Linked DNA regions of Homo sapiens: all the other regions are linked to region 3. Evidence: fine-mapped expression QTL. A gene starts in region 3. Each other region holds a variant in brackets. All regions are shown on one strand. Distances are between the middles of the regions.

Region 1 (2,760 bases), 220 kb before region 3:
CTCCCAAAGTACTGGGATTACAGGCATGTGCCACCGTGCCTGGCCTGTTGCCAAACTTTAAAAATCAATGATTTATGCTTGATTCCATGTGTCCCGACAATGTTGCTTCTATTCCTATAACCTGACAAAACACATCACTAAACTACCTTCTGGAAAAACCCAATGCTTTTATTCAGCTGTCATTGTCTTTCATCTCTGTGAATTATATTAATTGATTATTTTCTTCTTGAGATTCTCCTCCCAGTTTGGGGGTTACCATTTTATCCTAATTTTCTTTCTTTCCTTGTCTCTCTTCTGTCACTTTGTCCTCTGTACTTTTAGGTTGGCTTAGCTCTTAAGTCTTTTCCAACAATTACATTATTTCTCAGGCAGATATTCTGATAGATTCAATCACACAGATAAACCTAAAACTTGGATGGCAATAATCTGATGCCATCGTGTTACCAATCTTGTTTTCCACTACTGTTCCATGTGAATACACTACTTAAAAATGCAGGCTGGCCTAATCCTAGATTTTTTGCACATTCAAGGACATTTCTATTTCTCTGCATTCGTTCTTAGTAACTAACTGCATAAGATGCTCTTTTCAATCCGATTTCTATTTGTCTTTCAATATAAAATTAAAATGTTTACTCAACTACTCTGTCCTAAACTTGCCATTTTATGGCTCTTAAGAGCCTTTTGGCCAGGTGCAGTGGCTTCATGCCTGTAATATCAGCATTTTTGGAGGCTGAGGTGGGCGGATTGTTTGAGCCCAAGAGTTCAAGACCAACCTGGGGAACATGTGAATCATCAAAGAATAATAATAAAGGGAAAAAATTGTATAATGTTTGGCACGCATTAGTAGAACAAGTATAGCATTTTTTTTTCTTTTTTGAGATAGGTTCTCAATTTTTTGCCGAGGCTGGAGTGCAATGGCACAATCATGGCTCACTGTAAGCTACCTCCCAGCCTCAAGTGATCCTCCCGATTCAGCCTCCCGAACAGCTGAGACTGTAAGTGCATGCCACGTCTGGCTAATTTCTAAAACTTTTTTAGCAACAGTGTTTCCCTATGTTGCCCTCAAACTCCTGGGCTCAAGTGCACATCCTTGAACTCCCAAAGTGCTGGGATTACAGATGGGACCCACTGTATGT[G/A]TAAGGCAATTTTTATTTGAAGACCACTAAATTATTATTTTCCAAGAAATTCTACTGAAAATGAAAGCTGAGGAAGAATATTTTTGATCAATGTACCAAAATATACACATCCAAAGATAACAACAATACACTGGAAGGGAACCAGCTTGAATGTATTATAGTATAAACACTTATTTAACACTCTAACTCAACAGTTACTAACTCCCAAATCTACCTCTATTCTAGACCTCTCACCAAGCTCTAACTGTAACAGCCAACTGCCTGCAGGACCTTTCTAGCTGGATGCCCCAATGAGAACTCAAATTCAACTTGATTATCTCCCTGAAATTTGCTTATTTGTATCTTAGGAATCAGCATTGGGAAAGTTTCTTTATTCTGTGACTCCATGTCTTCACATGTAAAATGGGGATAATAACAGCATCTATTGCAAAGAAATGCTGTGAGGATTAACTGGATTAAAGTTCTCACAACAGTGCTTGCTAAATAAAAAATACTTTGGAAAGGCTAGCTAGTACAAAAAGTCCCTAGTTAGCTACTACAGAAAATTCCAAAAATAAACAATTCATAAGTGGTGTGGTGTTCTGAGTATCATGATAAAATCTTGTACCATCCTGCTTAGGATATGAATCATCCCTTTGTCCAGCTTATCTGTGTTGCAGACACTACCCACTTATTGGTCACTTAGTAGCTCTCTTATTACATGGGCTGTCATAGTATTGCAATGCTTCTGTTCAAGTAACCCTTATTTGACTTAATAATGGCCCCAAAGGGCAAGAATACTGAGCTTCATTTGTAATTTAAACTTTATCATAGGTATGTTATGCACAGCAAAAAGCAGTATATATAGGGTTCAGTACAATCTGAGGTTTCAGACATCTATTGTGGGGTCTTGCAACATTTCCCGAGGATAAGGGGTTCCACTGTATTACTTAAGAAAATGTCACAAAAGCTAGACATCTGAGACTCGATACAGATAATGATGAAAATGATCAATGTACTTATCGTCCATGTATCTGCTCCCCAAAATCTATACTGTTTCAAGTTGAGTGATTACCACTTTCATACAGCTCAGTATATGTCAAAATAAATGGTAATTCACTGAACAACTAGATGAAAAGTTGCTCCATGAGACTGAGCTCCATGCAGCTGATTTTACCTTCATCATATAATTTCCACCAAAGTTTAATCTTAGTTTACCCTTAGTTTGTCTTTCACTTCTACGGTGAACATAATAAAAATCACATTTGAAAAAGCATACCTTTTTTCAGCTCGTACTTTCTTCCCACAATGAGAACAAGTATACATGTTATCACCTTCCAAAGTGTCTTTTATAGTAACTTCATCAAGAGATTCCTGTGTATAAAACCACATTTAAAAGTTTCATATTATTGTTTATAGCATGCAAATATACAAAAGGTGGCAATTACAATTTTGACAGAATGCTCAGCAAAAAAATTTTTTTTTTAAAAGTGAATTCTTAAATTTTAGTAAAAAACTGTTTTTCCTCATATTAAGATATTCTATGAATCTTAGTAACTTTTTTGAAGGGTTAATTAAAAATTTAAATTTTGATTGGGCAAGAAAAAGCTTTATGGTTGATGTTTAACTCTTATTTGAATAGTAC
Region 2 (2,760 bases), 630 kb before region 3:
AAATGAAAGTGTCCTGGCAATTTAGGTATCATGAGTTTCATAACTTCACCTTCTTTTCTAAAAAAGGACACACGTGCTTGCTCTAAACTCTAAGAAAGCTGACAGAATCTTTATCCAGGGATGGTGAATGGCAGTAAAATTCTTTTTCACAGATACAGAAATGTCTTTCATGTGTTGATTTCTTACACCTAAATTGTTGTCTTGTGACAGCATTTCTGTGGGGTGCCGAGAAGCTTTGATCTAAGAGTACCCCTTTCTGGTGCTCTAATTCTAATCTGACCGTGGGGGACAGTCGAGAGCAGTGCTTTTCAAGCTCTAATGTGCATCTGAATGACCTGGGGATTCTAAATCAGTCATCTGGGGTGGGGCCTGAGGTCATGCATTTCCAACAAGCTCGAGAGGCTGAAGGCTTAGAGCAGCAGTTCTTAAACCTGAGCATGCATCAGAAACACAGGGGGCCTTGTGAAAATGGGTGGCTGGGCACCACCTCCAGGGTTTTTGATATAGTAGTACTGAGGTAGGCCTCAAGAATTTGCATTTCTTGGCTGGGCATGGTGGCTCATACCTGTAGTCCCAGCACTTTGGGAGGCTGAGGCGGGTGGATGGCTTGAGGCCACGAGTTCCAGATCAGCCTGGCCAACATGGTGAAACCCCACCTCTACTAAAAATACAAAAATCAGCTGGGCATGGTGGCAGGTGCCTGTAATCCCAGCTACTCGGGAGGCTGAGGCAGGAGAATCACTTGAACCCAGGAGATGGAGGCTGCAGTGAGCCGAGATGGAGCTACTGCACTCCAGCCTGGGCAACAGAGTGAGACCCTGTCTCAAAAACAATAAATAAAATAAAGAATTTGCATTTCTTTTTACTCATTCATTTATGAGCAGGGAAGTGGTGGAGTGGGGGCAGTGGGGGGCGGTCTCACTATGTTCCCCAGGCTGGTCTTGAACTCCTGAGCTGAAGAATTCTCCCACCTTAGCCTCCTAAAGCACTGGGATTACAGGCACAAGCCGCCAGGCCTAGCGGAGTTTGCATTTCTTTTCTTTTCTTTTTTTTGAGACGGAGTCTTGCTCTGTCACCCAGGCTGGAGTGCAGTGGCGTGATCTCGGCTCACTGCAAGCTCCGCCTTCCGGGTTCACGCCATTCTCCTGCCTCAGCCTCCCGAGTAGCTGGGACTACAGGTGCCCACCACGCCCAGCTGATTTTTTGTATTTTTAGTAGAGACGGGGTTTCACTGTGTTAGCCAGGATGGTCTCAATCTCCTGACCTCGTGATCCGCCTGCCTCGGCCTCCCAAAGTGCTGGGATTACAGGCGTGAGCCACCGTGCCGGGCCCAGAGTTT[A/C]CATTTCTAACAAGATCCCGTGTGATACACATTTTAAGAACTGCTGGCTTAGAACATCCCTCATGACTGTGAGTGGTCCCTCACTGGCTTCACATGAAAGTTGATGGTTACAAAATTCAAGATGAAACAACCATGATAGGCCTTCTAAGCAGGTATTTTGTGAGTTTAAATGAAAAGAGATCCACATGCCTTATTTAGATAATGAAGATAAGGATAGCTAACATTTATTAATCTTTTCTCTTTGTAACACACTAAGGGTATAACACACATTATCTCACTTGGCATCTGGCATGGGCAGCAGTGTTGGTGTTTGATGTTTGGCTGAGGAGCCAGACTTGTGTGCGTGCTGGGAGGGGGTGTTTTCGGTGCACTGTTGTGGTCTGCAGAGGTACCTGCATGCCAGGCCAAACTGTCCCTCAGGAAACACCTTTAGATCTAGACTAGCAGACGCTAGAGGCCCGAGTTCTGCTTCACAGAGTCTGCAGGAAATAAATGAAAGAAGTTGAGGGCAGGTGTTAACAATCATCTGTTTCAACCGCAAAAGTACCTGAATATAGAACAGAATTTGTCAAGCCTGGCGCACAGCAGGAGCACCTGGATGCCCGGGACCCATCCACAGAGGGTGTGATTAGATTGGCCTGGAGAGACACCTGGGCACAGGCATTTTTAAGAGCTCCCCAGCCAGGGTTGAGAAACACTGGTACAGGTTTGATTGCAGCAAGATGAATCGGGTTGGCTGAGGAAGGGAAGGGGCAGAGACCAAATTGAACAAAACAAAACATCTATTCCCAGACTGGATCTCTCTTAAGCATTTGCCAAATTGGTTTTGTGCTATCCTTTAGAACAGTGGTCTTCAAATTTAGTATGCATCAGAGTCACCTTGAGGTTTCCTTAAAGCAGATTGCTGGACCTACCCCCAGAGTTTCTAATTTAGCAGGTCTGGGGTGGGCTCAAGAATTTGCATTTCTAACAAGTTCCCAGGTGATGCTGATACTGCTGGTCCCAGAAGCCAGTTTCTTTGCTATTAAGACCTTCATTGCAACATACAGAAGGATGCCTATATTTCTTATTTTCTACTTATTCTCAACTCTTTTTTACTGAAGCAAAAAAATACAAACAAAAGTGAAAACAGGCCGGGCGCGGTGGCTCATGCCTGTAATCCCAGCACTTTGGGAGGTGGATCACCTGAGGTCAGGAGCTTGAGACCAGCCTGGCCAACATGGTGCAACTCCACCTCTACTAAAAATACAAAAAGTAGACGGACATGGTGGCATGTGCCTGTAATCCCAGCTACTCAGGAGGCTGAGGCAGGAGAATTGATTGAACCCAGGACGCAGAGGTTGCAGTGAGCCGAGATGGCACCACTGTACTCCAGCCTGGACGAGAGTGAGATTCCACCTCAAAAAAAAAAAAAAAAAAAA
Region 3 (2,760 bases):
CACCTCTGCCAACTAGGCCTTTACGCCCAGAAGTAGTTGATTTGCAATATATCTTCTATAAGCTGAAATACCATCTTGCAAGGGTCGAGAATAAAATAAAAAGGCCAGAAAAGATCAACGTACCCTTTTTAATAATAAAAAGTAAAGTACCAGGTAAAAGGCCTTTCCTTCCAAGAGAGATAGGCCATAACTATCCCGGGATGGTATGTGTAGTACAGTGCTCTGCTTAACAGAATGTACCATTAAAGCGGTGAATGCTACACTAAGAAACATCATTAACAAATTTATTTTAAAAATAGGTATGAAGGTTCCAATCATCACTATCACAGTTCGTTTTCAGCTATTTAAGGTCTGGCTGAAGTGTTTAAGACACCCACAAACCCGCAAGGGAGGGAAAAACCACCACCCTGCTCCCGGGAGTTTAATGAAAATTAGCAGGTAAGAGAGGCCTCGGCAGCACGCTGGAAATCAAAGAGGGCGGCCGGAGGATTTGGACTGCGGAGGAAAGCCTCGTCCTCCGACCCCACCTCCCCGCACCTTCCCGGCAGGGCGAAGGAGGCGAAGGCGGCGAGGGGTTCATTACTGCCTTCATTAATTGACACCTGTAATGAGGAAACTTTCCGAGAGCCCAGAGCGCCCGGGCCAGGCCGAGCCGGAGCTCCGCGGCGGCCGCCTCTCGGGCGCCCAGGTAACCCGGCCGGGCTGGGCCCGAGGCGCCGCGGCGGCCGCGCCACCGCGCACCTTCCCGGGGCGCTAGGCCCGCACGCCGCCCGGCCCGGCCGTCGCCTCCCGCAGGCCGCGGCAGCCCGGGGAGGCCAGAGAGCTGCGCGAGGACCCCAAACCGTGCACCCCGACAGGCCGCTACCGCGGCTACTTACTTTCATTTAACACCTCCACCAGGTCTGCGCAGTTCTCGCACATCGTTCGGCCGCCGCCCCCCCCCTCCCCCGCTTCGGATCACACTGACTGATCCCGACCGGCGGGGGGGAGGGGAGAGAGGCGGAGGAGGGGGCCGGCCGGCCGGCGGGGCGGGGAGGCGACTAGGGCGGGCGGCGGCGGGGACGGGGCGGGGAGCAAGAGAATGGGGGAGGGGGCCGGCGGTCCCCGCAGCGGGAGGGGGAGAGGAGGGGAGCGAGGGGAGGTGCGCAGGCCGGAGGGGCGCCGAGGCGCCGGCGGCGGGGAAGGGGGGGAAGGACGGGGGGAGGGGAGAGGGGGGGAGGGGGCGGGTGGGGAGAGAAGCAGCAGAGTCACTTCACCGACCAGACGCCGCGGCCACCGCCGACGCCGCCGCCATTTTAACAGAGCGCTCGGGCTGCGCTCGGCTCTTTCCGCCCGGGCTTAGGAGCGGACGAGAGGCGCCTCGCGCTCTCATTCCTCCGCCTCCCTCCCTTTCTCGCCTCTCCTCCGCCCCCCACCTCTCCCTCCGCACACACGCCGCACGCTCCACACCCCGCCGTGGCCGGCTCGCCGCCCTCCCTTTCCTCTTCCGTCCGGCCTCCCCGCCCTCGGTCCACCCCCTCCGCGCGCTCGCCCACCCCGCCCAGCCCGGATCTCTGTCAGCGGCCGGAAGGGAAACGCGAAGCCAGCGCGGCCGCGGGGGGAGTCCGGGTGAGTAGGAGAAGATGGCGGAGGCAACGGACGGGTCGCGGTTGCGTGGCGTCGCCCACCACGACCCACTCCACGGGCTCTGAGGCCCGGGGAGCGCCAGGTCACTCGCTCCGTCCTGTCCCCCGCCCCTGGGCTTCGCCATTTTTCCCCAGGGCCTGGGTCGGGGAGTTGGTGCGGGTTTCTTTGGTGTCCCCGGCCTCTTCCGCGCTTAGGCTTTTGGGGTACGGGAAGCAAGGAGTCAACTTGGGTGCCGGGCCGGGTCTACGCCGTAGCCCTCTTTCGGGCGCAAGGGCCACTCCCCCCGGGGTCTGAGAGTGAATCAGCCCAGGGCCCGGCTTAACTGCATCGGTGATTATCGCTACCCTGCAGTTCCTTGAAGGTCCTCCGTCCTGGAGCAGTAAGATCCTTGACGTAACTAGAAATGGCAGGGTAAGGAGTGTTTGCCTGACATCGTCTCGTTTTTACGGAAGAGGGCCCCTCACGATGTGCCCATCAGCCCCACCTGAAATAGCAAGAAATCTTCTTCAGCAGAGAGCGAATAACAAGGATATTAAGATAAAGAACAGGTGAAGGGGGCAGTCAGCTGAAGCTTGTAAGGGAATTTTCCTCACGCCGGCACTTACCCCTTGCTTGCTAATTTTTGTGTTCAACGTGTTTACATAGACATGTGACTGCAAAGTCCGAAAGATCGTGTACAGAATCTCTGAACGGTAACCAGAGTGTCTGTCAAGGCTCTGTAGTCATTCTCTCGATAGCTTTTGTGGAGGTTATGGCACGCCCATCTCTCCATGCCAGAACCACCTGGTTCCAAATGCTTTGCCTTTCTGCTGCTTGAAGTTGATACTATAAACAGTCTGCCCAACCCGTTTTGTTTCCCACTAGCAGGTGATCCTTAGGATTGTAGTTCTATTCTACCATCATCTTCCCTTCTTCCTTGTCTTTCTCACAGAATTGGGTTTTTGCAGACTTACTTTGGATCCTGAGGCAGACATTCGTTGTCCACTCAACATACATTCCCACGTATCCCTTTTTTCCCTGCCAACACAACCCCAATTATTTTTATTTGAATTTTTTTTTTTTGAGACAAAGTCTCACTCTGTCGCCAAGGTTAGAGTGCAGTGGTGCGATCACAGTTCACTACAGCCTCCACTT

Direction of the effects. Alleles are on the strand shown, and positions count from the first base shown. SD is a standard deviation of normalised expression in the study named.
In carriers of allele A in region 1, the expression in unexposed skin of the gene that starts at base 1,316 in region 3 tends to be higher than with G alone (small effect, 0.12 SD a copy in GTEx).
With allele C in place of A in region 2, the expression in lymphoblastoid cells of the gene that starts at base 1,316 in region 3 is higher (moderate effect, 0.68 SD a copy in GEUVADIS).

The links. PIP is the estimated chance that this variant, and not a neighbour inherited with it, causes the effect.
Region 1: its variant is fine-mapped to the expression of USP34 in unexposed skin (GTEx, PIP 0.99).
Region 2: its variant is fine-mapped to the expression of USP34 in lymphoblastoid cells (GEUVADIS, PIP 0.95).

Annotation. Positions count from the first base shown.
Region 1 is chr2:61,253,990-61,256,749 of GRCh38, forward strand. USP34 (ubiquitin specific peptidase 34) reads right to left here. Exons shown (of 80, transcript NM_014709.4): 48 at 2,395-2,489. Among named protein-coding and RNA genes, the nearest start is that of C2orf74-AS1, 77 kb to the left of the region's middle. The variant G/A (reference allele first, on the strand shown) is at 1,137.
Region 2 is chr2:60,839,245-60,842,004 of GRCh38, forward strand. No RefSeq gene overlaps it. Among named protein-coding and RNA genes, the nearest start is that of REL-DT, 41 kb to the right of the region's middle. RefSeq lists an enhancer at 1,825-2,244. The variant A/C (reference allele first, on the strand shown) is at 1,340.
Region 3 is chr2:61,469,772-61,472,531 of GRCh38, forward strand. USP34 (ubiquitin specific peptidase 34) reads right to left here and starts at 1,316. Exons shown (of 80, transcript NM_014709.4): 1 at 879-1,316. The coding sequence starts at 921. It overlaps USP34-DT (USP34 divergent transcript), which reads left to right and starts at 1,325. Exons shown (of 3, transcript NR_185882.1): 1 at 1,325-1,608. RefSeq lists silencers at 638-1,057, 1,148-1,227, 1,258-1,567.